3 separate regions of the Homo sapiens genome follow, and regions 1 and 3 are each linked to region 2. A link means that fine-mapping ties the variant in region 2 to the expression of a gene that starts in the linked region. Tissue or cell type: whole blood. Region 2 holds a variant in brackets; each other region holds the start of a gene. All regions are shown on one strand. Distances are between the middles of the regions. Region 1 holds the start of ST8SIA4 (ST8 alpha-N-acetyl-neuraminide alpha-2,8-sialyltransferase 4). Region 2 has its middle 120 kb from the start of FAM174A. Region 3 holds the start of FAM174A (family with sequence similarity 174 member A).

Region 1 (10,842 bases), 250 kb after region 2:
AAGCCACAGTAGTCTTACCTTACCTTGAAAATTACAATAACTTTATGTAATATACAATGGCTTTGTGAGGATCAAGTAAGGCTCTGCATGTAAAAGTAATTTTTCAAAAATTGCATTGATTTCAAAACATCTCAACGAGTCACTTCCCTGACAGTTGGTGGAGAGACAGAGATTATAGTAGAGAGAAAACTCATTAAGTAGTCATTATTAGTAGTATTTTCTCTTACATTAAAAAAACTACCTCCCTGCAACCAATAGTGTCAAGCTAGTATATCATGTGGCATGGTACTAGCTGAGGTGCTGGTGGGAGTGATGATGCTGGCAGATACCTGTAATAGCATGCATGCCATTAAAACATTTATATCTGAATAAATTCATTATTCAATAGACCATTTTCTTGTACTTTATAAATGTAAACCCAGACTCAGAAAATCAAAAAGCTACTTCTTATGGTATACGAATAGTAACCATAGCCCTTTGAATATTTGTATTTATTTCTTTACATCGCCTTTTACTTCTTAGAAAGTCAAAAATATAGTTAAAAAATAACATGACTATTTGCTCCATAACAAAGTCTAAAACTGTGTTTTTTTAATGCAGGCAATCCTCTCCTAGTATCAATGGAAACATTGCCTGTGTAACAGCTATTCGATGAATTCTGTAATTGAAGCCTTATAGTTTGGTATTTTGGTTTGCATTCTTTTTTAAACATGTTAGCTTAAATCTGAAGCAGCTCAAAGCATCATCATAGGCTGCTACTCCCTGTGAAATTCATAATTCTATAAAAATTAATATCTTAAACTATCCTACTGATGAAAATGATACGTTTGCATGCCTATGCATGGCAAATAATGATTGCCTTACAGGGAGCATTTAGGATGCCAGAAAACACGGGGTGTGCTTTACTGACCATCGGCCCAGAAGTCAATTTTTATATTATATTCATAATGATAATAGCTACTTATGAATAAAAATGTGGTTATACACAGAAGCTAACGTTCACACTTTGGGAGATATGACTACATGATTTCAGGTGCAAACTATCACTATTTCTGTGGATAAGGTATATTTCTAATCATCACCTTATTAATTGATGTATCAGTGTCATCTTTTTCTAACCACAGATTGATATCATTATAATAATTATTTTCACCACCAATAAACTTTCATAGGAGAAATAAAAATATGCATGGGCTTGCACTCTTTAAGATGTGTGGAAGAGCTGGGTATGGTTGGCAGTGCCTACTCAGGAGGCTGAGGTGGGGGGATTACTTGATCCTAGGAGTTAGAGACCAGCCTGGGTAACATCACAAGTCCCTGTCTCTAAAAACTAAATAATTAACTACATAAATAATCTATAGATGATTGCTTCATTGACCTAGAAATACAGATACATTTTTACATGGCAGAATGTTTGATATGATGTTTTCAGTTGTGCCAAGCCTTTTCAGAATATCCAAGATTTAAAAAGTTTAAATCAGTGTTCTATGAATAAAATGCTACCATTTTACTCCGCTGTTTGAATTGCTTTCATTGAGCTGGTGATAAGCCAAATTTCAGACTTTCATCACTGGAAAGAATTTTGAATGAAAATATCTACAACTAGTCACACTTTTTATAGTCAGTGTGGGAGAAGGTCAAACTTAGTACAATCTGAAGCTCTAGAGTAAATTTCTCTGTATAAAGTTAAATGGGTCCCATGGGATGTTTCACTCATGACCTTGGTAGCATTCTGTCTCAGAAAAGGCTCTTCCTTCCCATGAATGCGAAGCTTGAAGGATGTTGCCACCCCCCTACTTGTCTCTCATTCCAGATCAGACATGACTTTTGAACAGCTGCACTGAAAACATTTATTGCATAGGATCATCTACAAGAAGATTCAATATGTACTTTTAAAAGGAAAATAGCGAAACACATCAACGAAATCACTCCACATAAATCAATATAATACAAAGGATCCCTGCTTATTTGGATCAAAGAAAAATTCACTAAGATGGTCATCTATGTGATACCAGTGGCAGGAATTAATCATTTTTTAGGTAACCTAGTGTCTACAAATATTTCCAGGCTTCACCACAATTTACTTCATTAGTTTTGCAGTACGTAAGACATATGATTAATTTCACTTCATGGTATTAGGTCTCAAAAGCCCCGTATTCCACCCTACTGAAACTCTTCATGACTTGGCTTTTGAATGTATTTGTTCCCTTTTAACTAGGTTAAACTTCCTCTTTAATATAAAAATTTAAATAAAGAACTTGCATGAAACTAAGCCTGAATACACACAGCAGGCCATTTTGTATTTTCATTACCTAAGTGTCAAACAACTAAAAATAAAGATGATAGTTTCTACCTTAATTTATGAGTTTTAGTAGAATTGTGAAATGTGAAATGTGAAGTAAAGTGCAAATTCTAGATTTCTGCACTCACGAGGTTGTGTTTCATCCTAGAACAAACTGGGACTAACTTTGCTGTCAATGGTAATACTCTAAGTAAAAATATTTATTTCCACTTTCAATTTTATCATAGGTTTTAGAACTAATATTGTTGATTATTTAGTAATACAACCTAAAGTACATAGTCAAATTATAAGAGAGATCTTTGGATAATAAGAAAAGTAAGTTAGTCTCATTTGTAGTCAACCAGAAAAATAGTGTGTAGCAAGATTTAAGGACTAACAAAACAAATATTTATATGACATTAAAGTTTATGTTACACTTTCAAATATATTATCTCATTAAATGAGGATGCTTACATATTTTACTTGTGGGAGCCTTACATTAACACATTTCCAGTTATACCCAAAAGTGCACAAAGAGCTAATTAAGTCATAAGCCAACTGTGAGGTCTACTAAGAAAGTAAAGTTAGTCAAGAACACACCACTTAATGCCTTCACTGCTCTTCAACTTAAACTTTATTAACTAATAGGCTTTTATGGAAGGAAATATGAATTTTAGATGTTCAATAATCATTACTTGACCTATGCTGGAACAATTCCTTATGTATTTAAAAAAACATGTCGCAGGTATTCCTTTGGAGATATGAGAATGTGGATGGTTGGTGAGAAGGTTGTGCTGGTTTTCTATTTTTCCATCTGCGTGGTATGACTGCTCAGTATTGTGGCATACTGTAAGAGTAACTATAGATGGGACCCCCATTTGCGGGGGGGAAGGGTCGAAGGGATAAAGGAACTGCCTTGTATTGCAAAATTGGTAGCAGAAAAGCTAAATATGAATCTGGGGTAGTGATGCAAGATTCAAGGACTATGGAAGGCCCTTCTTTGAAACTGCTGCCAAGCCACAAGGCTCGCAGTGCCCCCCAAAGGCCAGAGACTGCCTTGGTTACCTCACTTGAATACTGGACCGGGATCTGGAGCCGAACCTCCATTCCAGTTTACTCAAAACTCAAAACTGGCCTCTCCACGTGGCTTGGGTAGAAAGACAGTCAATGAGATGATTTGATGGTTTTATGAGTCAACTCCTCCACCAGAAGCGCTGTTTGGGAGTTGAAACGAAATAATGAGCTCGGGTCACAAGCTTTTCCACGAACCTTTCATCCTGGAGAAAAAGGAAAGTGCTCAGGGAGCCTAGCTGCCCTCGCATTGTTCCTGGCAGCTCCAACTCCTTGCACAGTCTTGGTCTCTCAGGAGACCAAGGCAGTCAGGACGCTACAGGGCACGGGTGTAAGCGCGACGTTCGCGGCCAGCCCTCTGCCTTGCCCCACTGTAATTGCGGGTTTTGATTAAGAAGGAGGAGCCAGTTGCCGACTGAGCTTTGAAAGTGACTTTGGGTGGGGGGTGGGGGTGGGGTGGGGGTGGAAGGAGGGGAGGGACCAAAAGAGCCTGAGTCCTGCAATAAAGGTTTCCCCCTATCTTCTCACTCATTCTTTCCCCCTCGCCGCCGGCGCTCTGGCAGCAGGGGATAACCCCGGTGCGCGCCTCTCTTCCTGTTTGGTTTACTCAAGCGCCTGCCCCAACGCCTTCTCAGTCAAGCTGGGAGGAAACTGCTTCAGCTTGAAAAGGATGCGGGCAAAAGCCCAGCCCGACTAGCTCAACCGCCGCGCCAGTGCCCGCCTCCTCTTCCTTAACGCCTAGGGCTGCGCCCACCAGCCGGCAACGTCCAGGAAAGGGCCACAGGAGAAATGACACCCGTGCAATGCGGAGTGTCCCGGCTCCGCTTCCCCGCAGGGACTCGAGGTGCGCTCCTTTTCCTGGCCACGGTTTAGGGAGGCTCGGAGATGGACACCTCGGCAGTATCTGGCGACCCTCTTCTCACTCGCTCCGCCCACTCCTGCTCTCCAGGGTCCCAGCCAAGGGCCCGAACCCTCGGAGTCCTAGTGAGCCTTGGCCGCTTTGTCTGGGATCAGGCTTATCCTCCTAGCCCACGGCCCGGGAGGGAACAAAGAGCCTCGACCCTCAAGCTCTAGCCTCTGCCTCTCATCGGAGCCCCATGCGCCCATTCATCACCTTTCTAAAGACCCCTTTGTCTGCCTGGCAAGCACAGGTCTGCAAGGGATGCCCACGCCCCTGCCCAAAGTCCTGCTTTTCTAACAACTGAGCTAGATTGGATTTTCAAGCCACCCAGTCTTGTGTAAACGACCTCATACCGGTCTTTTTTACCCCCTCAGAATAGACCATGTATAGATTCGTTGATGCATGACGACCATTCCAGCCCATTCCTTGCTAGCTTTTTCATTCTCTTCCAGTCCGCTTTGACTGTGCTACTGTTTTCCTGGTTTTCTACAGAATAGCAAGTCCTTCTGTAAGGATCAACCTGCATCTTGCTCGCTTAAATAAATGCTTATTACCTAGGGAGCAGGAATATTAAGAAATGGAGTGCAGGAAGTTTAAGAGCATGTGTGTGTGTTAGCAGTCCCATCTCTCTCTCTCTCACACACACATACACACACACGCAAGGGCTGTTTTCTTTGTTTTAATCAATGTCAGAGAAAAATATAAACTGGGCAGGCATCTCTGCTGGTGTGTAGTTTCTGATAGAGGACGCCTCCAAACCGGAACAGGGAGGATTTCCGAAACAGGACTTTGAATAGAGTTGACAATCAGGTTCACATCCTCAGAAAAAGCCTTCCAAGCTATGTCAGCAACACAAAGTTGCACCACCTCCTGGGTAAACTTCAAAGACACAGAGGCCAGCGGGTGGAAGGAAGTGTGATATTTAGAGAACTTAGTGGGGCGGGGGAGAGTCTGAACTCATCTAGACAAACTAAAAAAAATAGCAGAAATATAGTCTGTGTGAAGCTACAGTACCCAGTTTCTTTCTAAAACTGTAACCATGACGCCCATGCGTTTTAGCCGTAGAAGAACAAATAAGGAAGTATCCTTAGTGGTACTGGAGTTTCTAATTCAAATTATAACACATTAATCTATCCAACGTCAAATAGAAAAAAAAAAAGTAGAGAAACAGAGTATACCTATTTCCTGCTTTCTAAGCTTTAACTTCAGCCCTTCGAGAAACCATCTATCTCCAGTATCTCCTTAGGTGATAGGACATTGAAAACAGGCAACCGTTTGGTGAATAAAGACATTTCTCTTGAGTTCTGCCCACAGATTAAAAGGACAAGGACACACGTTCTTTGTTGACACTTCTGCAGTGACTTCTCCTTTGGCGAGAGAGCACCCAGGGCCAACACAACTGTCACCACAACCACACAGAGCAAGTTGAACTCATACTGGGAACAGCTTAGAGAAGCACGCACATCTCAACAACAGCCTTTGTTATTTAATTCATGACACTAACCACGCGCAAGCTCAAACAAACACACATGCTATCCTAACCATCACTCTACCCTCTATATTCACATTTCATTTATGGCTTGACTTTTTGTCATATCCTGAAATGAAGCTTTGCATTTACCCGATGAGTTGCGTCTCCTGGTGCTCCTCAGTTCTTGCTATTTCTTTTGTCTTATAAAAGATCAGGAGCAGACTTATTGTGCAGATCGTCCACCTCTTCCTAATGGAGCGCATCTTGGGTGCCCGAGAAAGTCCTGGTTGCCCCAGCTCCCGCACCTTCTCTTGATATAAAGGCTCCGTTTTGGGGAGATAGTCGCGGGGGTGAAATCTGTAAAATGCGAGGAGAGCTTGGAGCCGGGATCCCGGGATCAGATCACTGGGGTCTTCTGTGGCCGAGCTCCCTCTGGTCCTCGAACGCTGCCCAGCGACCTCTCGCCCTGTTTGCGCCAGCTCTGCCAGGGTCGCTCCGCGCCGCCTCCCTGGGGCTCAGGTTTCTTTTCAGATGAGACACCTTGTGCATTGGAGGTGGCGGCAGCTTCTGCAGCTGGGTTCGGGGGCGTCACTGGCCCTTCCCTCTTGCTAGGAGATAAACGCTGCGCAAAGCCAATCACCAGGCTGAGGGGGCGGAGGCTGCTTGGAGAGTAACGTCCCCGGCTCTGCCTGCTCTGTGCCGGGAGAGGAAGCTCACAGTGCTACGCGCCTGCGAGCTCGCGCACATACACATATACATACATACACACATACATACATATGCACACACACGTACACGCAGAATCACACACACTCTCCTGGGACATCAAAGCATCAGCTCTCTGGACCTGGGAGCTCCAAGATAGTCTATCCGCATCTAGGTGAGAGGGCACCTCGCCTGGGGACAGATTACAAAAGCGTCCCGCCAGAGGAATGCTTCAGGTAGAGCTAGGGGTGGATTGCAAGAAGAGTACCTTCTTTCAATCGCTTTTGCTAAACACACACCCTCACACGCAAAAACACGCCCTCCAAGGTGGAGTGAAACGGGGTGCGGGGGTGGGGACGGCGGTGGAAGGAAGAAGACTTTTATTACTCAATCTGGAAAGTGCAAATACACACATGAACCTGTTAGCCGATGGGCCCACTCTGCATGGGTGGTGGACGACGACCCTGGCTCAGGATTCTGCAGGAAACAAGTGATGATAGAGGTGTCATTAGGAACTTTATGGATATTTATGCGCCTCCCTTTCATTGCCATTTGGAAACTCCTCACGCAGAAGTCAAGGAAACTCCAATCCCACTTAAACTTCATTGCGGAGAAACAGAGTTCTGAAAAAAAAGCAGCTACCATGGACCTCTCTTTTAAACGCAAGTACACCCACACACATTCGGATACCAAGGAAGGAAGGAAAGAAAGAAAGGAAAGAAAAGGGAGGGGAGGAAGGAAGAGCAAAGTCCTCTCTAAAAGTCTCAATTATATATATAGCCTCTGATTGTCACCTCTCCTCCGTCCCACCATTTTTCGTACTTGTATTGGGTGGCAGGGACACTTTTCAAGAGTTCTGTGTTCGATTGTTCACTCTGAGTACCTCTCCACCATCCTCCAGTCGTTGCCCTCATTGGGAGAGATGCTTGCTACTCTGCTAGTACCACGCCTTGGTTCCGGTCTTTACTGTTGGCTGGTAGGTCGGGAGGCACCTCTAGCATGAGACAGTGTCTGGAAGCCAGGATTTCCCTCATCTATATGCGCCGGTCCCCAGCTCCCTGGTCGCCAGGGTTTCTCTCCAGTTGAATTCCGTGTTCCTTCAGGTTGAACAGTAGCTTCAGCGGTTTTTCACGCTCAGAAATGATGAGGCCCAATTCCAATCTTCCCTCCCGCCGGAAGTAAGAAGGGGAATTCTGAGTTGCTTGTCGCCTGACAGCTTAAAATAGCAACGAAAACAGCCAGCATCTTTGCTTAAAAACCCAAGGTTCCCGCCAGTGTTTACCATACTTCCTCTAGAGTTTAAGAAGTTAAGAACTTCCGAGATCTTGAATTTCCTCTTTGCAGCACAGCGAACGGGGTCGGGTATAAAAATGCTCCAAGGAGCAAGTAATTACGAACGTTTATTGACACTACAAGTGGCCCACAGGGAGCCTTTCGAGTTTATTGATGTCTAGGCAAATCCAGCCTGCATTAATGCATTTCTGTTAGATTGACTTCTGTTAGACTCACTTTTCTTCTGGCAAAAACTGCCAGAATAAAACAGCTTCTTATTTAAGTTAAAAGGGATCCGGGGCTGAGGGCAGGGGTCGGGTGGGAGAGGGATGCATGGTTAGGATGCTAAATTCTCAAGGATAAACTTTGATTTTTAAACAGTAGACAACTATATTTTAGATTATAGGTAAAACATCACTCTCTGTCAGGGATAGAGTAATATGCATCGTTTCATTAAACTCATTATTTCTTAAGCAATGGTTATGGGGCAGGCAATGTGTGCGGAGATGGGAACACAAAGATGAATAAAACTTAGCATCTAGTCAGACACAAATCCTACTCACTCAAAGGGGGCATCTTTTAAAAATAATAATTTACAGTATGGCAACATGAATCAGAAACATCATTTAAAATATATATGGTATCTGAGTAAGCTCCTGGGTTGAAGCAGATGGGGTGTTTAAGCCTTTTGAAGCCCGGAAGATGAGTTTCCGGGTGAAGGGGACACACAGACTCCTGTTTTCAAAGCTGACAAGGAAGTAAGCCAAGCAGAGGGAGGATAGAACATTGCAGGTGGAAAAAGGAGTATGCGCAACTCCAGAGAGTAATAAAACTCTGGTGCTTTGGGGCAACTTTGAAGTGGCTCAGTACTGTTAGAAGGGAAAGTGGTAAGGGAGAGTGCTGGTCCAAAAGTTTCGGTGTACTCATAATATTCTATGGCTCCAGAGTGTGGAACAGTCTTCTGTAATGAGAAAGCCACAAGAAAATCTTCAAGAGGAAAGTGAGTATAATCTATATTAAGCTTTAAATTACATTAGGGGAAACTACTTACCTAGCCCAAACAGGAAAAAACAAACAAACAAACAAAAAAAGAAAAGAAAAAAAAAAAAAAAAAGAGCGAAACGAAAGCAATCAAGAACTAGTTATAGGAACACATAAGACAAATTTAAATGTCCAGAAGAAAAATAAGTGAACTCTCCAATTGTATAATGCTGCTGTTTCTGAATTTTTTAAGTACAGAACTTTTTATATTAAGGCGAGCAATTCTGAATGACTGATAACTGTTCAGCGAGACTCCAGGAATTCTTCTTCCCAAATTAAAGCAATTTAGTGTTTGGAGTGTAATTGAATGCCATTTGTTTAATATTGTTAGATTCGTTAAATATATAGCCATTATAATTTGCCAATTAAAAAGAAGCCATACAGGCCAATACTTAGACAAAAGTGAGGACAGCATGGTTTTTTCTCAATATGTAAATAGGTGCAAGAACTATAAATATTGGATAAAAAGTCTTTTGGAATTAACTTCTATTAGAATGCTTAGTTTGATGTTCCTGAGCACCAAAAGACTATAAAGAAGTCTTTTGGAATTAACTTCTTCTATTAGAATGCTTAGTTTGATGCTCCTGAGCAAATAAGATTGTTTCTAAATTTTCATTTGATCTTTGGATTGTAAGTTCTTCAATAAAGAGAATATATTTGTCTTTATTCAGCACAATTCTACAATTATACAATAGCCTATAAATAAATAATGTGAGTAATGGCAGCTGGTTTTAAAATGATACTTTATCCTTTGACTTAATGTAAATTCATGTTTTCATTGCTGGCTGTACTCTCAAATCTAGCTGGCAAGAAATGAATAGATACTTGCAGTCTCATGGTGGAGTTTTTAATGACCCATGACATTTTTAATAGACTTTTTTTTTTTTAGAAAACATTTAGGTTTATGGCAAAATTGAACAGAAAATAGAGAGTTCCCATATAACTCTACCTTCTCCCCATACTCAGTCTCCCTATCAACATTCCTCATCAGAGCAGTACATTTCTTTTTTTACATTCAATGAAACTACATGTACATATCATTATCACCTACAGTACATAGGTCATATTAGGATTCATTCTTGGTGTTGCACATTTTATGGGTTTTGCCAAATATATACTGAACATATATTCACCATTATAGTATAATACAAATTAGTGTCACTGCCCTAAACATCCTCTGTAATCTGATTATTCATGCTTCTTTCTCACTCCCGGTCACCCCAGGCTCTGACTTCCCTAATGTTTTTACTGTCTCCACAGTGTTGCCTTTTCAAGTGTCATATAGTTGGAATCATAGAGTATGTAGCTTTTTCTGATTGGATTCTTTAACTTAATAATATGCTCCATTATTTTCATGGCTTGAAAAACAAATTTTTTTTCATGGCTTGAAAGTCCATTTTATTTTAGCACTAAATAAAATTCATTATATGGATATATCAAAGTTTATCCACTCACTTACTGAAGGACATCTTTATTGCTTTCAAGTTTGGGCAATTATGAATAAGGCTGCTGTAAACATCTGTGTACAGTTTTCTGTGTAGATGTAAAGCTTTCAACCCAGTTGGGTAAGTAGAAATAAATAAGATTGTTGGATTATATGGTAAGAATATGTCTAGTTTTGAAAGACACTGCCAAAGTGACTTCCAAGGTGGCTGTACCATTTTGCATTCCCATCAGCAATGAATGAGAGTCCTTGTTGTTTCATATCCTTGCCAACATTTGCTGTTGTATTGGTTTAGATTTTGACCATTATATCAGATGTGTAGTAGTTGTATCTTACTGTTGTTTTAATTTGCAATTCCCTGATATTATATGATGTTGAGCAATTTACACATGTTTATCTTCTATGGTAAGGTGTCTGTTCAGAACTTTTGCTCAGGTTTTTAATCAGGTTCATTTTCTTACTCTTGAGTTTTAAGAGTTCTTTCTATATTGTGGATAACAGTTCTTTATCACATCTCTTTTTGAAAATATTTTCTCTCAGTTTGTGGCTTGTCTTTTCATTCTCTTGACAGTTTCTTTCACAGAACAGAGGGTTTTAATTTTAATGAAGTCCAACATATTAATTATTTTATTGATGATTCCTTTGATGTTGTATTT
Region 2 (10,842 bases):
ACAAACAGCTTATATTAGTAGCGTTTACTAATTTCCATAATGTATGTACTCTCACCATGTCTGATTTTGGGCAATAATGTGATGCTACTGAGTCTGGAGTTGGGAAGTGCTGGGCATGATCAGCTCTCCTTTGCCGGATACATTAGCTCCAGCACACCACTGTGTTTAGCCATTGGGGAGAAAGAGGAAAGGAAACCCCTGATGTTTGCCTACAGCCTGGATCAAAGGATTCTATGCTGAAGTTCTGTATATCCAACTGAATCTCTTATTACAGTTATCTTCTTGGAAATTGACATCATGTAACCCAAAGGAAATACACTCTCTAAAAAATAGTTGAACCTTGAGTTTTAGTCAAATAAATACATAAAATGTGTCTAATTAATTGTCTTTTAAAATTCTGATTGTGTCTCCTTAGAAGTAGCATCACTTACTTGAAAAGCAAGGTATGTTTGGTATGATTGAAGGAAAGTTCTACTGCCTTGAAAGATGAATTCTAAAAGAAGATATTCCTTTTTTTCCTTCCCAGGTTCCTCAAATTTTTCACATTAAATACCTTAGTTAATTAGAATCGTCATGCTTAAAGCTTTATTTCATAGAGCCTACAGCTGGAAGAGACCTTAGGTGATAAGGCAATGTTACACAAAACACTTTGAAAACTCTACAACTATTATAGTTGTACAACTAGTATATTTTATTATTTATTATCATAATATGCTGTTCAACCCAATAATTTTACAGGGATGTTAAGTAATTTTCCACAATTATTATTAAAAGTTAAGGCTAGAACACAGATCTTTTACATTTCATAGTAAGAAAATTCATATAATATCAGATTGCCTGCCTTATTGTTTACTCCCTCTTTTAAGTGTTGAAATAAAACCAAAATTTAAATATTATGCATATTTAAGAGAGTCCTTGTATTAGTCCATTCTCACACTGCTATAAAGAAATACCTGAGACTTGGTAATTTATAAAAAGAAGAGGTTTAATTGATTCACAGTTCCGCATGGCTGGGGAAACTTACAATCATGGCAGAAGTCAAAGGGGAAGCAAGGCACACCTTCTGTGGCAGATCAGGAGAGACAGTGTGAAGCGTGGAGGGCCACAAACTTTTAAACCATCAGATCTCGTGAAATCTCACTCACTATCATGAGACTAGCAAGGGGGAAGTCCACCCCCATGATCCAATTACCTCCCACGAGACCCCCTCCTCTTTGACATGAGATGTATTTTTTTGTTGTTGTTTAATGGCCAGGCACAGTGGCTCATGCCTGTAATCCCACCACTTTGGCAGGCCAAGGCAGGCAGATCGTTTGAGGTCAGGAGTTTGAAACCAGCCTGGGCAACATGGTGAAACCCTGTCTCAACTAAAGATGCAAAAACAGTTAGCCAGGCGTGGGGTGGGCTCCTGCAATCCCAGCTACTTGGGAGGCTGAGGCAGGAGAATTGCTTGAAGCTGGGAGGCGGAGGTTGCAGTGAGCCAAGATCATGCTCCTGCACTCCAGCCTGGTGACAGAGCAAGACTCCATCTCAAAAAAAAAAAAATTTAAAATCATATGGTTTATTCTTTGCATATATGGTCAATTCCTTTCTTTTCAGATTTTTGATCTGCATTGCTGTTATATTTAGTAATTCTTATTGATTATTAAGGTGGCCAACGTCAACAGATTATCTGTATTTTTTTACCATTATTTTACAAATATATTAACCTGCATGGTATTGCATATAGACATATTATATGTGTGAGTAAATGGGTGATTCTAGACTTTAAACATTTGTCACTAAGCTTCTGATGATACCTTTAGAGCTATTATAATCAATTTTATAGTATACTTGGTGACCTTAGTTTTAAGACTGCTGTTCACAATTTCATAGATTATTTTTATGATATAAAAGTAGCAAAAATTTTTGCAGATATTTCTCATAAAGGAATATTAAAAATTTGCGAAAGAAACATTACTAAGTTGGTCATTCATAAAGTCATAATTGCCATATTATATTTAGAAAGTATATTTAGGTATTTTCAAAGGCCCTCTCTCTCTCTCTCTCTCCTTCCATCTGTCTTCTGAAACAGATATCAGAATTTGAAAGATGTTGACATCCTTTGGGTAATTCCTTTTTATTGTATTTAGTAAATATTTGAGTGCTTATAAAAATTTGAGAGTTTATTATAGATCATCCTTCCTCAACTATTTTTCATTTTTTTCCAGATGCCAAGCCAGTCTTCCACAGACAGTTTCCTAATAAAGTTGTCTAAAGCATCTCTCATTCTAAATTGCTACCATCAAAATATATGTGAAGGGGGGAAGACTATTTTTGCTTGAGATTTGGGCATCATTGTCCTTCACTTCATAAAAGTGCATTTGATAGTTAATACATATGTACAGGAAAAAAGATTTTTAGTTCTTACATTTTAAAATACTCATACATTTTCCAATGAGTTTCATATCCAGTATCATGTTAAGACTTTGAAGAAAAGCTTAAAGTAGATAGAATAAATATTCTTGTGAATATTTTATAAGGACACTGAGTAAGAGAAATTAATGTTGAAATGTAGAAAACTACAAGATATCTGGAAAATATTTAGTTAACAAAAATCTAAGTTGTAACTAAATGTGGTGAGTACATTTTAGAACATATATGGTATTTAGAACTTTCAAATCAGCACTCTATTGACCTCCATAGATACCATTCACAATTATAAAACTGATTTTAAATTGCACGAGAGGAGTTAGGTCCATGAAAATGTGGGGTAGGAAACTCCAGAAATTGTCCCTTCTATAAAAGCAATGAGAAAACTGGCAGAAATGGTCAGAATCAACTTTTTCAGAATTCTTGTTACTAACCGAAGATTTATTTTTGGACTCTGTTATGTTTTCTGTCCGTTTCTTAACCTTCTATCCATTCCAGAGTTGAAGGCTGCCACTTCATTATTAAAGCTCTAGAGTATATTTTGGTTTCTAGAACAGCTGTTCTTGCCTTTTTATTCTTTTCCAAATGTTCTTGGATTTTTGTGAGGTTTACACTGGATTCCATTAAATGCATAGCTTATTCTCAATATAATTAATATATTTGCAGTCTTAGGTTTTTCTCAGTCAGAAACAGTATATGACTTCACATTTATTTTGATTTTCTTGTAACTTTCTGTAATATTTCATAACTTTTTTCAGACAGGTTTGCATAGTTTTCGCTATATTCATTATTTTATTTTACATATTCTGTAATGAAAAAGGATATTTATTATTTGTATAACATTTTAAATCTGTTATAGCTAATATATAGAAAACTCTTATTTGCTTGTTTACTTTATGTTACTATATATAGATTTTTACAGATCGTTTTTGATTTTTTATGTATCCAAATATTTTGTGTGATAGTATTTATTTTGATTTTCTTCTAACATTCATACCTTTTCTTGTGTGATCATACCAGTTAAAATCTCCGACTAGTTTTGTAACTATGGTGACTACAGCATTCTTGTTTAATGCATTTAATTTAATTTATTCACAGAATGATAAAGAAGTATAAGCTTTTGCAGACTGTAGAAAACATCTAATCCAGCTTTTTAAATTTCGACATGTAAGAATGGGGACCAGAATACTAAAATGACTTGCTTAAATTTATATAGTTCATTTATGCCATGGCTTCTACCGGAATTCCCCCTTGACTTGCATTCAAGCTCTTTAGTACTCTAAACTACTTTTCTTTACAGGACAATCAGTAAGTCCAATAGTCTCACTCTGCTTTGTCAAAATATTGTTATTTGATTCACACGCTGCTCAAGCTTGCCAGATGCACACACACACACACAGTGGAATGTTCACTCTTCACTATCAAACTCAGTGTTCCTCATAACTAGCAAAATAAATAAAGAACAAATCTTTTTACTCTGGCCTGCTATTTATTATGCATATTTATTTATTACATATATATCAGATTACATACATAGACTTTAGTTTACTAAAATACAGATTATATAAAAATATCAAATCAATTCTTCTCTGGCAGACGTTCAGTTTATATCTCGAATTCAAATAAACTTGATGCCCATTAGTGTAGTTTCATACGCAAGTCGAGGTTGGTCTATATGCCATGGCCATTCCTTTCCTGGAAACAGGTTATTTGACTGCAAGAGTTCTTTTTATGAAGATGGATCTAACGATTTTTGAAGTTCCATAAGACAATATTCTGTGCACCTGTGTGAATGTTTTGTCAGGATCAGTTATAAGATATGTAATTATATGGATGTTTACTAATTAATGCAAAACCCAGTGGGACTGCCAGAGAGTTTAAACAAGTTCTCTCTTGCATATGACGACAATTGTTCTGATGCGTCAAGTTTCATTAAGCTAACAAGGCCAATCACTTGAAGGGTTTTAGGTAGATTTGGATGATATTTTCACATTATGAACAAAGAGTCAAACACTGTTCCATGCCCTGAGAGCCACATTTCATTATGGCAGAGAACATGTACTCCAAAGTCCTCAGCTGTTTTTTTCAGTATAATTATGCATCATAATAAGACCCCGCTGTCAAGGTGGCTACATTTTCATTCTATTGGACATCTTTATTGAAAGGATTTATTCTTGTGATCATGAGTCATTAGAGTGACAAAGTCTACTAAGGGTAACTGTATTCTAATGGTTCCCAGTATTGGAGACCATGTATTATCTACTAGGGTAGAGTTAGGAACTGCAAACAAGAGGATGAACAATATAAGTTTTTTTCCATTTCTCTTCCTGTATACCATTTTCTAATTAATGAAGACCTAAAGAATTATGATCTTATCTCACTATACATTTCATGGGAGTAAAAACATTTTCTAAGTGTGCCATTTACCACTTGCTTTATCACCAAGACTCAGCCTATAGTCTTTTTGATAAGAAGCAGGGCTGTTATCACACAAACACCAGAAAGAAAGACAGAGGACAATACTGTAACAAGTGTTAAGCTAGGAATAGAGTCCTCAAATCATGTCTTTATAGATATCTTCTAAAACCTCTCCCTTTATATCTCCAAAAGAAGTGTGCAGGTTATCTGGAATTTAGTGCTTTCCCTAAATCTGTGTGGAATGACAGACTTTGTGAAGAAGTATAGAACATATCTGAGGCACTAGGATTCCTTTTATTTAATCCATATCAGCTTTCGTGACATACAAAACTAGGTCTTTTGGGGAGTTTGCATGCTCCTGAAGAGAGGTCTAGAAAAATATGACCAAGGAAAATCATTACTAATTCACTTACCCAAACTCTAAGAATTCATTTATCTCTTTCTGACAGCTGTGTAGAGTTCCAAGGGTAAGAGACCCCAAAAGAGAAAGCAGACAAGGTCATTGTTATGAAAAATATTTCTACTTCACTCGTAAGCATTTAAAAATTGTTTGCTTGTGCTAGTGAAAGCTTCTCAACATGCATCATAGTCCATATGTTTTGGCCTGACTTCTCACCTGTCCCCGCACTTCTTGAGTGGATTTTAGGAGTATGGACTGGACCTTGAGAATGGAATGCACCAGTGGCTCAACTGTGGCCCTAAAAGTTACCAGTGGCCAAATTTCCAGGAATAAGGCAGGAAGGCTGGTTGGTTAAAGGCAGAGCTGAATTACTCATGAATTTCTGCTCCTTCCTCAGTTTAGCTCTTCACACATTCCTTTTTAGCAATGTTCATCCATGGATTTTCCGAGTGCTATATCCTCTAGTGGAGTAGGAAATACTTCTTTCTTAGCCCTTTCTACCATTCAGATACAAGACCACAAAGACAGTTATGTGGTTTCCTACAAATCTTAAACCTGGAAAAAATTGTTAAGAATATAAACGCCATATAATACCACAGTGATAAACATGTGGTTTTATGCGTAGTGTATTTAAAATAAGTAAATATTGTTCAATACAATTTTATGAATATTTACTTCCCTTCTCTTTGTGTGTGTGTATATATATATATAATTTTAAGTCATGTTTAATATTTATATTACTATTGCAACAGCAAACTGCAACTACGCTAATTTTTGTTACAATGCTATGAAATTTGGTGACATTTTGCTGCCTATAACAAATATAGTGATTAATCATAATGAAATTCACATCTGGATATTAGGCTCAATACAAAAATACTTATTTCTAACAAATATGTCTTATCTATACTTTAACACTATACCAGGTAAAATAAGGAGAAGGGATGATTCCATCCTAAAATAAGGAGAAGGGATGATTCTGTACCTAAAGGTAGCACTAGGAAACAGACCTTAGATTCATTTGCTTTTAAGACCCTCACAGCTGCACATTCCTTTCTCCTCTTAGTTCTCTTCTTAGGCTCAAATAAGAGTATTTTGAGCTGTCAAAAAAATTGAAATTATTACTGATTATTCTCTATTTAACTTTATAGACAGTGAGAGGTGACAGCATGCTGGCAGTCCTCACAGCCCTCGCTAGCTCTCAGTGCCTCCTCTGACTGGGCTCCCACTTTGGCGGCCGTGGAGGAGCCCTTCAGCCCACCGCTGCACTGTGGGAGCCCCTTTCTGGGCTGGCCAAGGCCGGAGCCGGCTCCCTCAGCTTGCAGGGAGGTGTGGAGGGAGAGGCAGGAGCGGGATCCGGGGCTGCCCGCGGCGCTTGCGGGCCAGCTGGAGTTCCGGGTGGGCGTGGGCTTGGCGGGCCCCACACTCAGAGCAGCCGGCTGGCTCTGCCGGCCC[G/A]GGCAATGAGGGGCTTAGCACCCGGGCCAGCGGCTGCGGAGGGTGTACTGGGTCCCCCAGCAGTGCCAGCCCACCGGTGCTGCCCTTGATTTCTCACGGGGCCTTAGCTGCCTTCCCGAGGGGCAGGGCTCGGGACCTGCAGCCCGCCATGCCTGAGCCTCCCACCCCCTCCGTGGGCTCCTATGCAGCCCGAGCCTCCCGGATGAGCGCCGCCCCCTGCTCCAGGGCGCCCAGTCCCATCAACCACCCAAGTGCTGAGGAGTGCAGGCCCACCGCACGGGACTGGCAGGCAGCTCCACCTGCAGCCCCCCTGCAGGATCCACTGGGTGAAGCCAGCTGGGCTCCTGAGTCTGGTGGGGAGGTGGAGAATCTTTATGTGTAGCCCAAGGATTGTAAGTACACCAATCGGCACTCTGTATCTAGCTCAAGGTTTGTAAACACACCAGTCAGCACCCTGTGTCTAGCTCAGGGTTTGTGAATGCACCAATCAGTGCCCTGTCAAAACAGGCCACTAGGCTCTACCAATCAGCAGGATGTGGGTGGGGCCAGATAAGAGAATAAAAGCAGTCTGCCTGAGCCAGCAGTGGCAACCTGCTGCGGTCTTCTTCCACACTGTGGAAGCTCTGTTCCTTCGCTCTTTGCAATAAATCTTGCTACTGCTCACTCTTCGGGTCCATACTGTTTTTATGAGCTGTAACACTCACCGCGAAGATCTGCAGCTTCACTCCTGAAGCCAGCGAGACCACAAGCCCACTGGGAGGAGCGAACAACTCCAGACGCGCCGCCTTAAGAGCTGTAACACTCACTGCAAAGGTCTGCAGCTTTACTCCTGAGCCAGCGAGACCGTGAACCCACCAGAAGGAAGAAACTCTGAACACATCCAAACATCAGAAGGAACAAACTCCAGACGTGCCACCTTAAAAGCTGTAACACTCACCGCGAGGGTCCGCGGCTTCATTCTTGAAGTCAGTGAGACCAAGAACCCACCAATTCCGGACACAATAGGACATTGCTGGAAAAAGTTAATTTTAGTTTCAGATTCCAGGTGTGGTTTTGTTCCTCATTTTCTCTAATTTACCCAGCACCGGGCCTAGAATATAGAAGGTCCTCAATTAATATTTGTGAAATGAATGAGGAAACGAATGGAGGAATGTTGAGTAAAGACATTGGAGTGAATTAGAATCTCCTGGCTCTCTTGGTCAACGTTTGAATCGGATCTATAAGCCAAGGGTTAAGATCATTGTTGCTAATATTGTGGAGGTTACAATTTCTATCAGTTAACATGTTTCTCAGCATTATTACCTTTTAACTTTAATAGTTTTCTTGAAAGGCAACCTTTAGTACCATTGAATTGTACTGTATTAAAGTGCAAAAATTGCCATTGATTATACTAATTATTATCTGCTGAAAGTTTCGGTCAGCGAGACCTGAGGAAACAAGTCCTGCTCTACTTTTATTCATACCAGCTTGATATTCATATCATGTCATTTAATATTAGTTTTAGGTTTCTCTAAAAATATTACCTTTTGTAGACATATACAGACACCTATTTAGCACATGTTATATGCCTGAACAATGCTTAGCTGATGTAAATTTAAATATAATGGAAAGCTTCCAAGGGCTTTGTTACAACTGAACCAGTGGCTCTCTCAAATTTTTTGAGACATGCTCATTTTTTAAAAATTCTATTCATACTTGAAGATAGAAGCAAAAGTATTCCTGAAAATATCATAGCCAAGAAGTGGCATGAAATAATGAGAGTGATTAAATGAAATCTTTGGAAATGTTTATACCCATTGTATTAATCTGTCTACACACATTTAACTGCCTTTCAGATATTCATTTCAGATCCCAACACAAATGTTTCTCAGCCTCTTAAAGACTTGGTAGTTCTAGCTCTCTGGTTACCTGATGAATTTGTTGATTTAATGTTATTGTCTCTAATTCTGTTTGATAAAGGTTACTAACCTATGGTACTGGAAACTAGGGGGGAAGAACCTCTCTTCTGACTTAGCTTTTTGACTACTCTTGGTACCCTGCATGAATAGGTCAGTAAATCTTGATCTACTTGCTGCCACTGCACAGTTGAAAGGCTGAGAGACAGGGTTAGATCCTATATCATAAGTTTAGAGTAGGAGTTTACATAGAAATCTACTCAGGGCCACCATGTATATTCATACAAGTCATGCACTTTATTACAAGCTTGCTATGAATGGTTCCTTCAGTATTGTGCAGTACAAAACTTGCACCATCCTACAAAGAAGTCACAGGTCCAACTACTTTTTTCCTTTTCCCTTGAGATGCCAACTCCAGGGCATTTGTTTCTTACACGCGTAACTGTCATTTTAAAAGCATGGCCCTTCGTATTCTACTTTCACAATCTTAGATACAGAGAGAAGGCAAGCTATGGGTTTCCATACTTAGATTTGCTATCTCAAGTACCAACTCTCCTTTTATGGATTCCTTTTTCTGCAAGTGAGAAACATCCCACTTTCATTTTTAATTTTCTGTAGATAACTTAGCAATGGAAACACAATAAATAAGTTTTTGGGCTTTTAGAAACATCTAGAGTAAGACAAGAAGTCGAACCAGCCTACTGTGTATGTTGACATGGTGCTGGTGACAGGAGTTTTTAGGATTACAATTGATTCACCTATCAAACTTCCTTTTTTATTATTTTGTGAGTATCTGCTTCACCCACAGGACTGAAACAACATGTGTTTAAGAGCTGTGTCTGTTTTGTTCACAATATCTCTAAAATCTACCACAAAGAACTTGCTAACATTTTTTTGTAGAATGAACTTGTAGAATGCATGTTAAAAAGTCTTCCAGTATATATAAGCTGTAAAATAAAAATATTAATGATTTAATGAACATCTAGCAAGTCATGGCATCTGAAAGCAGAACTATAGTACTTAAAATATCAAATTTAACTCTCTATCTGTTATTGGTGTATAAGAATGCCTGTGATTTTTTCACATTGATTTTGCATCCTGAGACTTTGCTGAAGTTGCTTATCAGCTTAAGGAGATTTTGGGCTGAGATGATGGGGTTTTCCAAATATACAATCATGTCATCTGAAAACAGAGACAATTTGACTTCCTCTTTTCCTAACTGGATACCCTTTATTTCTTTCTCCTGCCTGATTGCCCTGGCCAGAACTTCCAACACTTTGTTGAATAGGAGTGGTGAGAGAGGGCATCCCTATCTTGTGCCAGTTTTCAAAGGGAATGCTTCCAGGTTTTGCCCATTCAGTATGATATTGGCTATGGGTTTGTCATAAATAGCTCTTATTATTCTGAGATACGTCCCATCAGTACCTAATTTATTGAGAGTTTTTAGCATGAAGGGCTGTTGAATATTGTCAAAGGCCTTTTCTGCATCTATTGAGATAATCATGTGGTGTTTGTCTTTGGTTCTGTTTATATGCTGGATTACGTTTATTGATTTGCATTTGTTGAACCAGCCTTGCATCCCAGGGAGGAAGCCCACTTGATCATGGTGGATAAGCTTTTTGATGTGCTGCTGGATTCGGTTTGCCAGTATTTTATTGAGGATTTTTGCATTGATGTTCATCAGGGATATTGGTCTAAAATTCTCTTTTTTGGTTGTGTCTCTGCCAGGCTTTGGTATCAGGATGATGCTGGCCTCATAAAATGAGTTAGGGAGGATTCCCTCTTTTTCTATTGATTGGAATAGTTTCAGAAGGAATGGTACCAGCTCCTCCTTATACCTCTGGTAGAATTCGACTGTGAGTCCGTCTGGTCCTGGACTTTTTTTGGTTGGTAGGCTATTAATTATTGCCTCAATTTCAGAGCCTGTTATTGGTCTATTCAGGGATTCAACTTCTTCGTGGTTTAGTCTTGGGGGGGCGTATGTGTCCAGGAATTTATCCATTTCTTCTAGATTTTCTAATTTATTTGCGTAGAGGTGTTTATAGTATTCTCTAATGGTAGTTTGTATTGCTGTGGGATCGGTGGTGATATCCCCTTTATCAGTTTTTATTGCGTCTATTTGATTCTTCTCTCTTTTCTTCTTTATTAGTCTTGCTAGCGGTCTTTTACTGGTTTTGACATTTTGTTCTTTAATCAGGGCCTCTGACCACAGAGACCCAGGGTGTGCTATGTAATGCATCTCTTCAGAAAATAAATATGAAA
Region 3 (10,842 bases), 120 kb before region 2:
GGGCAGTGTGATGCATCCAGCTTTGTTCTTTTTGCTTAGGATTGTTTTGGCTATTCAGGTTCCTTTTCATTCCATATGAATTTTAAAATAGTTTTTTTTTTTTTTACATTCTGTGAAGAATGTCAGTGGTAGTTTAATAGAATTAGTATTGAATCTATACATTACTTTTGGCAGTATGGCCATTTTTGCAATATTGATTCTTCTTATCCATAAGCATGGGATATTTTTCCATTTGTTTGTGTCCTCCCTGATTTGAGCAGTGGTTTTGTTTCTCCTTGAAGAAGTCCTTCCCTTCCCTTGTTAGCTGTATTCTTAGGTATTTTATTCTTTTTGTGGCAATTGTGAATGGAGTTCATTCCTGATTTGGCTGTTAGTGTATAGAAATGCTAACAATTTTTGCATTGATTTTGTATCCTGAGACTTTTCTGAAGTTGCTTATCAGTGTAAGAAGCTTTGGCGCTGAGACTATAGAGCTTTCTAGATACAGAATCATGTGATCTTCAAACAAAGGTAATTTGACTTCCTCTCTTCCTATTTGAATACCCTTTATTTCTTTCTCCTGCCTAATTGCCCTGGCCAGAACTTCCAATACTCTGTTAAATAGGAGTGGTGACAGAAGGCATCCTTGTCTTGTGCTGGCTTTCGAGGGGAATGCTTCCAGCTTTTATCCATTCGGTATGATATTGGCTGTGGGTTTGTTATAAATGGCTATTATTATTTCAAGGCATCTTCCTTCAATATCTAGTTTATTGAGCATTTTTAACATAACGGGATGTTGAATTTTATTAAAGGCCTTTCTACATCTATTGAGATAATCATGTGGTTTTTGCTTTTAGTTCTATTTATGTGATTAATTACATTTATTGATTTGCATATGTTGAACCAACCTTGCATTCCAGAGGTGAAGCCAACTGGATCGTGGTGGATAAGCTTTTTGCTGTGCAGTATTGGTCTATTCTGAGATTCAAGTTCTTCCTGGTTCAGTCTTGGGAGGGTGTATGTGTCTAGAAATTTATCCATTTCTATGAGATTTTCTAGTTTATGTGCATAGACGTGTTTATAGTATTCTCTGATGGTTGTATTTCTGTGGGGTCAGTAGTAATACCCCCTTATCATTTCTGGTTGTGTTTTTTTGATACTTCTCTCTTTTCTTCTTTATTAGTCTAGTCAGCAGTCTATTTTATTACTTTCTTCAGAAAACTAGTTCCTGGATTCATTGATTTGTTTAAGAGCATTTTGTGTCTCTATCTCCTTCAGTTCAGCTCTAATCTTGGTCATTTCTTGTCTTCTGCTAGCTTTAGGATTTGTTTGCTCCTGGCTCCTAGTACTTTTAGTTGAGATGTTAGGTTGTTAACTTGAGATCTTTCTAGCTTTCTGATGTGTTCATTTAGTGCTATGAAGTTCCCTCTTAACACTGCTTTAGCTGAGTCCCAGAGATTCTGGTATGTTGTCTCTTTGTTCTCTTTAGTTTCAAATAACTTCTTGATTGTAGCTTTAATTTCACTATTTCCCCAAGAGTCATTCAGGAGCAGTTTGTTTAATTTCCATGTAGTTGTGTGGTTTTGAGCGAATTTCTTAATCTTGAGTTCTAACTTGAATGCACTGTGGTCTGATAGACTGTTATGATTTAAGTTCCTTTGCATTTGCTGAGGAGTGTTTTACTTCTGATTATTTGATCAATTTTAGAGTAAGTGTCATGTGGCAATGAGAAGAATGTTATGCTCTGTTGTTTTGGGATGGAGAACTCTGTAGATATCTATCAGGTCCACTTGATTCAGAGCTGAGTTCAGGTCCTTAATATCTTTGTTAATTTTACGTCTTGATGATCTGTCTAATATTGTCAATGGGGTGTTAAATTCTCCCACTACTATTGTGTGGGATTCTAAGTCTCTATGTAGGTCTCTAAGAACTTGCTTTGTGAATCTAGCTCCTCCTGTATTGGGTGCTTATATATTTAGCATAGTTAGCTCTTCCTGTTAAACTCTTCACCATCATGTAATGCCCACCTTTGTCTTTTTTGATATACTCTTTTTTAGCACTGTGCTAAATTCTGAGTATTGAGTAGTGAATAAATGAGATTGACCCTTGCTTCATAGAACTTAGGTTCAAGTGGTAAAAATAATCACACTAATTTTGGAATCTTAAGTGTGTGTTATAAATGAAACATACAAGATCTATACTACAAATTTTGTAAACTGCTGTTTTAGGTAGAGTGGACAGGATAGTTTGTCTCTTAGCTGCTTTCAGGGAGCAGGGTAAGGCAGTTGCTTCTGGCTGGCAGAACTGCAAGGATTAGGCATCTTAATGTTGAGTTTCAGTGTAAAGAAGCCCATTTGTGGTACACCCTAGTGTCAGCTTCCAAATGGCATTTATCAGTAATAAAATGCCCTTTTGATTTCCCATCTTCCTTACTCAGAACTTCATTCCACATTATAAATGGAATAGAGTTAGTATTTAATGCCTCTCCCAAAAAATAGAATAGAGTTAGTATTTAATGCCTCCTCCCAAAAAAGTCCAACATTCAACTTGTCAAAAAAAAAAAAAGGAATGACAAAAAAGAAAATGTGCATTATCTTTCCTTCCTTCCAAAATCTGATTTTGTCATGTTCTTCATCTTGATTAATGGCATTATCATTCTCCCAGATGTGCAGGCATAAAACCTTGGTATCATTTGTTACCCCAAATTCCCATCTGCAGCAGTCCTTGGCAATAACTGGGACATGCAAAGAGCTAAATGATTCTGAAATCTTAGAATCAAACTATTGTTTCCAAATGATTAGGAAAGCTATGTTCTAATGTTTCTCAAAATGCAGCTCTCAATTACCCAAAACAGAATAAGAAAGGGAATTTGTTAAAATTGGAGATTCTAGATCACTATTTTAGAAATTCTGGACAGAATTTTTGGAAGTGGAGACATGGACTATATATGCATTTTTAACAAGCTCTCAGAGTGATTTTCATGTACACTGAAATTTAAGAATCTCTTTCCTTTCCCTTACTACCTGCATCCAGATATTGTCATATCCTGTCCATTTCCCTAACTTTTTTCCCATTAATCCAATCCTACAGGCCTCTATAGCCCTAGGACTATATACTAACCTGCTTGGTGCCCAGCACTTTCTACCTTCACTTAAAATGGCTATATTACTGCCAGGATAAACTTTTTAAGTACAGATCTCTCCTGATATAGCAACCAACTAACTAAACAACAACAACAAAAACAAAATCAGATTTTTCAGAGATACTCAATTCTCAACAAAAGTGATCTTAAGCAGGCAACATACCTGGAAGTTACTGTGCTCTTTTTAGAATACCATATTGTTTGTAAAACATCATTATATAATGACATCTTGAAATCTGTCATGGGAATGAACAAAAATTTTCCTAGGAGAAGATACTGTGTTTTGTTTGTGCAATAGAAAGTTACAATTTTGAGCACAAATATCTATGTGAAATACAATCTTTCAAACTAAGTAAAATTAGTTGTTTATGAATTTTTCTCTTAATTTTAATATACTTGTTCATTTACTTGTTATCAATTGGCTTGCAAACAAGTTGTACCAAGCACAGGATATAAAAAAAAAATACATAAATAAGGGGAAAAAATCTCAGAATGAGAAATTTGTATCAGGTTACTGCCACATTATTATATTCTCCTAATTAATACCATGATTTGATTCTAGCTTCTTAATCAACTATTGCTAGAATAATGTGGCATAATCAATAACCATAGAAATATCAGTGGCATACAGCAAATAAGCATTTATTTTTCACTTCTTTGGTCAAGCTGGGGTTGACTAACTTAAGCTAACCTTGGCTGCATTTGGTGCCAGGCTATAGGTTTAGTCATAGTTTACGCCAGATATCCCACAGTCTACTAGGATCAGAGGACTAGCTGGGTCATATTCTTTTCAAGGTTAGGGCCAGAACTTTCTGTGCAGAGAGGGCAGGCAAGTGAAAGGGGGAAAGGAATAATGAGAGAGGTAGGTGTGTGTATGCATGTGTGTGTGTTTCTGGCTCTCTCTCTGTATATATCTACCTGTATCTGTCTCTCTTTTAGCAATGAAAACAATAACTTACTCAAAAGACCCACGTATACCCTTGACAGGCATCTCATTGGTGAGAGGTACATCATGCGGCCACTTCTAGTTATCTGCACAAATTGAAGTTCCATATTACTGAAGTCAAACAGGCAAGGAAGACATTATTGAAGACTACTGCTGTTGGGAAAGGGGATAAAACTCTTCTAATCTCAACTCCTCTAAAAGAAAAAAAGGAGTGGAGAGTTATTAAGAGCTATTTTGGGAAGATCACCGGCCACCTGAGTTTGCTGATTGACTTTACCCAAAGGAAAAGTAAATTTTCTCCTCCATGACAGGAGGTGGTTTTACAACTTGAAGCGAGAAGCCTACAACAGTTAGGTTCCTTTCCTCTCACACAAAATAAGAGATGGCCCACTACCTTCCTTGCTGATTATATTTCAAAGGCATGATGGCTTTCCATACCCTTGAGATAGTTTTCAATTATATAACTGGCCAGAAGCTTTAAAAAATATTTACATCTGAAAAGGGAAGAGAAATAACTTACAATGGTAAAGTTTTCTAAAGTAATTTTTTTTAATATACTTTAAGTTCTAGGGTATATGTGCACAACGTGCAGGTTTGTTACATATGTATACATGTGCCATGTTGCTGTGCTGCACCCATTAACTCGTCATTTACATTAGGTATATCCCCTAATGCTATCCCTCCCCCCTACCCCACGACAGGCCCCGGTGTGTGATGTTCCCCATCCCGTGTCCAAGTGTTCTCATTGTTCAATTCCCACCTATGAGTGAGAACATGCAGTGTTTGGTTTTCTGTCCTTCTAATAGTTTGCTCAGAATGATGGTTTCCAGCTTCATCCATGTGCCTACAAAGGACATGAACTCATTACAAGCAAATGCTCTTTAGAAAGGGAGGTCAGGGACCCATAGGCAGGAAAAAAAGCCTGCTTAAAGCTTGTAATGAAGCTAAGGAAAACTAAGCCCTTCTGGCTTACAGATTAAATGTGTTATTGCAGTTTGACACCAATGAATTCAGATTATGAGTTTCCAATCTCTCAGGGTTCCTGCATGAGAGAGTTGCTGTACATTTTACACAATCTCTTTTTGTCTACTTACTTTCTTAATACGCATCCTTGACCGCTCCTCACTAACAGTGAAAAGAACAATGCTTCCAAAACGGTCACGTCCTCGCTTTTTACACAAGTGCGCGTGCGCACTGGGCGCTAGGCCTCTGACGTCACCAAGTGCATCCGCCCCTACAAGTTAGCAACCGAAGGCGTCCTTAGCAGCAGTGGCCGCTGAGATGTACGAACTTCCGGTTCTCCGGGCAGCTGCCACTGCTGTAGCTTCTGCCACCTGCCACGACCGGGCCTCTCCCTGGCGTTTGGTCACCTCTGCTTCATTCTCCACCGCGCCTATGGTCCCTCTTGGAGCCAGCGTGGCGGGCCTGGCGGCTCCCGGGTGGTGAGAGAGCGGTCCGGGAACGATGAAGGCCTCGCAGTGCTGCTGCTGTCTCAGCCACCTCTTGGCTTCCGTCCTCCTCCTGCTGTTGCTGCCTGAACTAAGCGGGCCCCTGGCAGTCCTGCTGCAGGCAGCCGAGGCCGCGCCAGGTCTTGGGCCTCCTGACCCTAGACCACGGACATTACCGCCGCTGCCACCGGGCCCTACCCCTGCCCAGCAGCCGGGCCGTGGTCTGGCTGAAGCTGCGGGGCCGCGGGGCTCCGAGGGAGGCAATGGCAGCAACCCTGTGGCCGGGCTTGAGACGGACGATCACGGAGGGAAGGCCGGGGAAGGCTCGGTGGGTGGCGGCCTTGCTGTGAGCCCCAACCCTGGCGACAAGCCCATGACCCAGCGGGCCCTGACCGTGTTGATGGTGGTGAGCGGCGCGGTGCTGGTGTACTTCGTGGTCAGGACGGTCAGGTGAGGCAAAGCCTCGGTGGGGCACCCCCGTGGGCCTGAGATACGCAGGCCGGTGATCTCCAGCAAGGCTGACTTCTGTGACCCTTTCCCCCTTCCCCAGCATCAGGGACTCCTGCTTAAGAATATGATATTGACTTTCTTAAAGGCCTGTTACCTTTGGAGCAATTTAAACCTATAACTAATTGCTGCCTTTTGTTTATAAATGAGTGCCCTACCTCCAAATCTCTTCATCTGACCTACAACCCACGTCAGCCTCAAAGGGCACCCTTTCTCTGAAGTGAGGATAATCTTTATTCCCTAGAATTTTGACTACTCTGTCTTGTAATACTTCTACCTTTCTAGTCTAAATTTTTGTATACCTAACTGGTCAAAATTTTGCCAATCAGAATGCAAACTCTTTAAAGACAGGATATCTATTTAGTAGGTTTGTGAGTCTTACAAATTATTTGTACAATGCTGCCACTTAATAGGAAATCAATATATATTTGAGTGGATTAATAGTAATATAGAGGTGCCTTATGGATATTTTATTTTTATAAAATTCAGGAGAAGAAAAGTTCTTCCTTACTATCAGTGTTTCCTAGTATTGCCCTTTAATCTGCCACCTAAGTGGCAGAGAATCACCTTCCTGAAGAGTTGACATACAGAGCCAAGACCTCACCATTAGGAGAAGCCAGCAAAGAGATAAGGTGAGGGAAAGCTGTCTAGCAGTTTATTTCATTATAAAATAAGTGTAGAGGGTAGGTTTGCAGCTTATGTTTGTTTATTGTTTTCAAAATTCACGTTTTTCCCATAAATACCCTCTGTATTGTAATTTAACATATTTCTTTAAACTGATTATTTAAAGCAAAAGTTTCCTTTTAAACAAGTCGTTATTATCATGAATGGAAAACCAACATCACTTGGCTAGTTAAAAAATAGTGTAAGCCAGTGGTTCTTGACATGTGGGCCAGGGAACCACACAGGTGGGAGTTTCACTTAGACCTCTTCAGGGCATCTACAGTATTAAAACTATTTTCAAAATAATACATTCTGTTACAGGCTTATAGGGTACAAGTAGTTCATTGATATTGTTTCAGATTCCACATTGCAACTAATCTTTAAGAAACTGCTTGTCAAGTTTTGGTGTAGTAGTATCATAAAGGAATAACCACTCATATATAAAAAGGCTATTAAAATGTTTCTTTCCATTCCAAGTTTATATCTGTGCGAAGATGGAATTACTTTGTATGCTTCAACCAAACAACACATTGCAAAGGATTTAATGCAGAAGTAAATATAAAAATCTATCCATTTCCTATTTTTTGTTTCTATTTTTTATCTACTCCTATCACCTTAAGCCAGATATTAAAGGGAATTGGAAATAAGAATCTAAATGTCATTCTTTTTACGTTTTTTTCTTTTTTGAAAATATAGTTGTTTTTCATAAAAGTTATGTTAACTTGTAATGTGTTTACTATTATTTTAAATCAGTTGATAAGTATAGGTTTTCTCAAGTTTAATTAATATGGTAAAGTTGATATGTGTAATTCACATAAATATAAGTTATTTTGGGTTCCTGAACAATTTTAAGAATGTAAAGAAATCCAAAACAGCAGGCGTAAGCAATATTTGAGAACCACAGCTGTAAGAAATATTATTTGAGCTAGATATTGTTGGTTCACAAAGGCTAGCAAATCTGCACTCACACTCTAAGTGTTAAAAGCATATTACCACCAAACTGAGACTTTCTTCTTAATATAAAGAAAGATTAAAAGAATATTGAAACAAATTATTTTCCTCACTATATAACTGTTATTTACTGCTGTCTGTACATAGTTCCTATAAAAATGCATGGCCCCTTGAATGTTGTATCTCTTATACATAAAAATGATAAGTATAATGATAATTTGGGGGGAATATTCCTTCCTTGTTTTTTTCCTTTTGCTTCCACCTTTTTAATTATTTTAAATACACATATTTATTACCATTGATTTTCTGTCATTAATGTTGTAAAACTTGGACAGATACAGTCCTTCCAATATGATCCTATTGGATGACTTGGTAACATGATGTGTGTTAACAGCCAAATTCTGAACTATGGCTAATAAAAAGTGCATTCTTTAACCAGCATCTAACATATTCATGCAGTCCAAGTCCTACATTTAGTTGGCTGCCTGGCATCCAAAGCTTGAATGATGCTAACAATGTCTGGGCAGTGTTCCGAACTCATACTTTTTGCTTCCAGATTATGGTTTTCTTCATTATCTTGGTGAATGCTCATTTTGGCTCCCATTTTCAAACTATGTGTGACAGTGCACTGAAATTAGTTATTTGTGCCAAGGGAGAAGAATGGGCCAAAATCATTATTTTCTTAACTGATTTGAGGTGATGCAGAAAATATTTTACTTGTAAAATTTTATTACATTGAACTACATGAGACTTTCAAATAGTTTTGTTTTTATCTAATTCATTTATAATGAATATGTAGGTAATAATAACTTCCTTTTTGAGTCTGGAAACATTCCAAAGAACAGTCAGGTTCTCACTGTAGAAATACAAAACATATATATATATATGTAAGTGTATATATATATATGCAAGGAACACGGTAGGGACAAAGTAGATTGCCTAAAATGAACACTTAATCTCTATGAAAAGAGACTTTTCTGTCTTATTCTCCCCTATATCCTCAGTGCTAAACATCATGTGCAATATATGATGGGCACTGAATAAGCAGTTGCCTAATGGATGAGCACTCTTCATGTATTATATTGCTGAACAGGTAGGTGGTAAGGATTTGGAAATTTAAGGATAATTGCTGTTTACTGACGGAACAAAGAACTGCGAAGATCTCAATTAATACTTTTATTTCCTTCCTCTCAGTAGGACATTCTCTCCACAGTAAAATGTATAAGGCCAGGGAGCGGGGGTGGGGGGAAATCACTGTAGATGGTTGTTGGTTTTAGCACGTATGGTAATTATATAAAGCAATTTTTGTCATAGCTGAATAATGATTCTTGCCTTAAAAGCAGGGAATTATTTCCTTTTTCATGCCATGTCGTTGGTTTTTCGTTTTTTATTCAATTTGGTATATTGGAAGGAAATCGATGCTTAAAAGTTTAACCCTCTACTTTTTTTAAAAAAAATCTCTATGCTCTTTAGCAAGTCTCTTCCAATTTCAAGAAAATATGGTGCTCATGCTCATATAGTGGAGATGAGCATGAAATTTATTATGATAGCCTTTATTTAAGCAGTCAATATTTATTCAACTGACCAGTACTGGGCACTGGGGATACAGTTTTGAGCAAAACAAACATTTCTGCTTCTATAACACTTATATACTAGAGGAGCAGAGGGGCATTAACCAAATAATCACATAGATAAGTACATAAAGGATGCTATGAAAAGGCATTAAAATGCAGATCCTATTAATACATATTATATAGGAAATAAAGAATATTAATTTAATTTGAATGCTTACCCAACCCTATACGCTAAGACACAACGTTAGGTTTTTTCAAAGAACCATACTTTGTAACTGAAAGATTATTTTTGAGCTTTTACTTATCATCCTAATAGCTGATAGTTAATTGATAATTTATGTGTCAGATATAATACCGCATACTTTATGTGCATTTTGAAATTCTTGCAAAAACCTTCAAAGTAGGTAATATCATTCTTACTGAGGAAATTTAGGCTGAGCAAGTTTAAATAACTTGCCCAAGCGTGCACATACAGGACCTGCCCAAACCCAGCTCTGCTGGAACTTACCTAACATGTTCAACCATCATGCTGCTTCCTGTGATCATTTAAAGTAACCAATTTAAAGCGATATTGCACATAAAGATGGCTAGCTTATTTATGGAGAAAAATAAAGTGGATAGTATATGCCCAGTGCCTTTCTGTTTAAAACACATGATTTTGTTGGATGTTAAACCTCCAAATTTTACCTTTTTGAAAAGTGAGTTAACATTTATTGATCATCATATTTGTGCCAAGGTGAAATAATTTTGTTTCCTACCTCAACTCCCTGCATTCCTTCCCTCATCCAAAGATTTTCCTGATTTACTACACATAGTCAGGGAATGGTAATATTTTAAAGAAACGTCTGTTAATATGGTCACACATATTTCCACCTTAGTGGAGCAAGTCACTAATGATTTATGCATGTGACTTTAATCACCATTTCTCTTTTGTCTGGTTACTTAAGAATATGAGTTGTTTTCTTTTTCTCCTAGAAGTCTTGTGGTACCAGCCCTATTTACAAAATTATAAAACATCCATAGAAATCACTTAATTTAAGCAAAACCAGGAGTACTTTTGACTATTTAACCATTTATGTATTTAGTGACTGTCACTAATTCAGTAAATATTATTTACCACCTATTGGGTGCCATTACTAAGCTCTGTGATGAGGGTTAGTAGTGCACAAGGAAAGTCCCTGCATTCATGGAACTTCCATTATAATTGTTCATATCTCCTTGGAAAGTGGAGTTTTCCTAACATGTGTAAATTGTCCTGGTTTGCCATTATTTATTTAGCTAGTCAGTGTATATCAAATGTTTTCTATATAAAGAGACCCAGAAACTTGGAAATGTATTTAACAAGTACTAGTTCGCAAGTAATGAATATTTTTTTGCAAAGGTGAAACTTCCCTTCACAAAATGTTTACTCATACACCTAAAATATTTTAAAGTGTCAAGTTAGTTTGCTATGTGGTCAAGTGCCAAAATACCAAGATGATGACATAACTGATATGTCAGGGATCATAATCCCTGATATGATTATCATATCATAAGTGAAGTGATAATAGAATGCTCTGTTTTTAAGTGATATTTGTTATGTGTGCAGTTCTGGGAGGTAAAAGTGGAGATGTACTAGTTTGTTGGGGGCGT

The links.
Region 1: it holds the start of ST8SIA4, and the variant in region 2 is fine-mapped to the expression of ST8SIA4 in whole blood (INTERVAL, PIP above 0.99).
Region 3: it holds the start of FAM174A, and the variant in region 2 is fine-mapped to the expression of FAM174A in whole blood (INTERVAL, PIP above 0.99).

The regions. Positions count from the first base shown.
Region 1 is chr5:100,896,969-100,907,810 of GRCh38, forward strand. It overlaps ST8SIA4 (ST8 alpha-N-acetyl-neuraminide alpha-2,8-sialyltransferase 4), which reads right to left and starts at 6,314. Exons shown (of 5, transcript NM_005668.6): 1 at 5,875-6,314. The coding sequence starts at 5,987. LOC107986437 (a long non-coding RNA gene) reads left to right here and starts at 6,440. Exons shown (of 2, transcript XR_001742825.3): 1 at 6,440-8,701. RefSeq lists enhancers at 3,437-3,656, 3,763-4,264, 5,402-5,971, 6,457-6,696, 7,477-7,716.
Region 2 is chr5:100,650,197-100,661,038 of GRCh38, forward strand. No RefSeq gene overlaps it. Among named protein-coding and RNA genes, the nearest start is that of FAM174A, 120 kb to the left of the region's middle. The variant G/A (reference allele first, on the strand shown) is at 6,686.
Region 3 is chr5:100,530,000-100,540,841 of GRCh38, forward strand. FAM174A (family with sequence similarity 174 member A) reads left to right here and starts at 5,375. Exons shown (of 3, transcript NM_198507.3): 1 at 5,375-5,965. The coding sequence starts at 5,532. FAM174A-DT (FAM174A divergent transcript) reads right to left here and starts at 5,244. Exons shown (of 5, transcript NR_172939.1): 1 at 5,162-5,244; 2 at 4,081-4,153. RefSeq lists an enhancer at 5,334-5,633.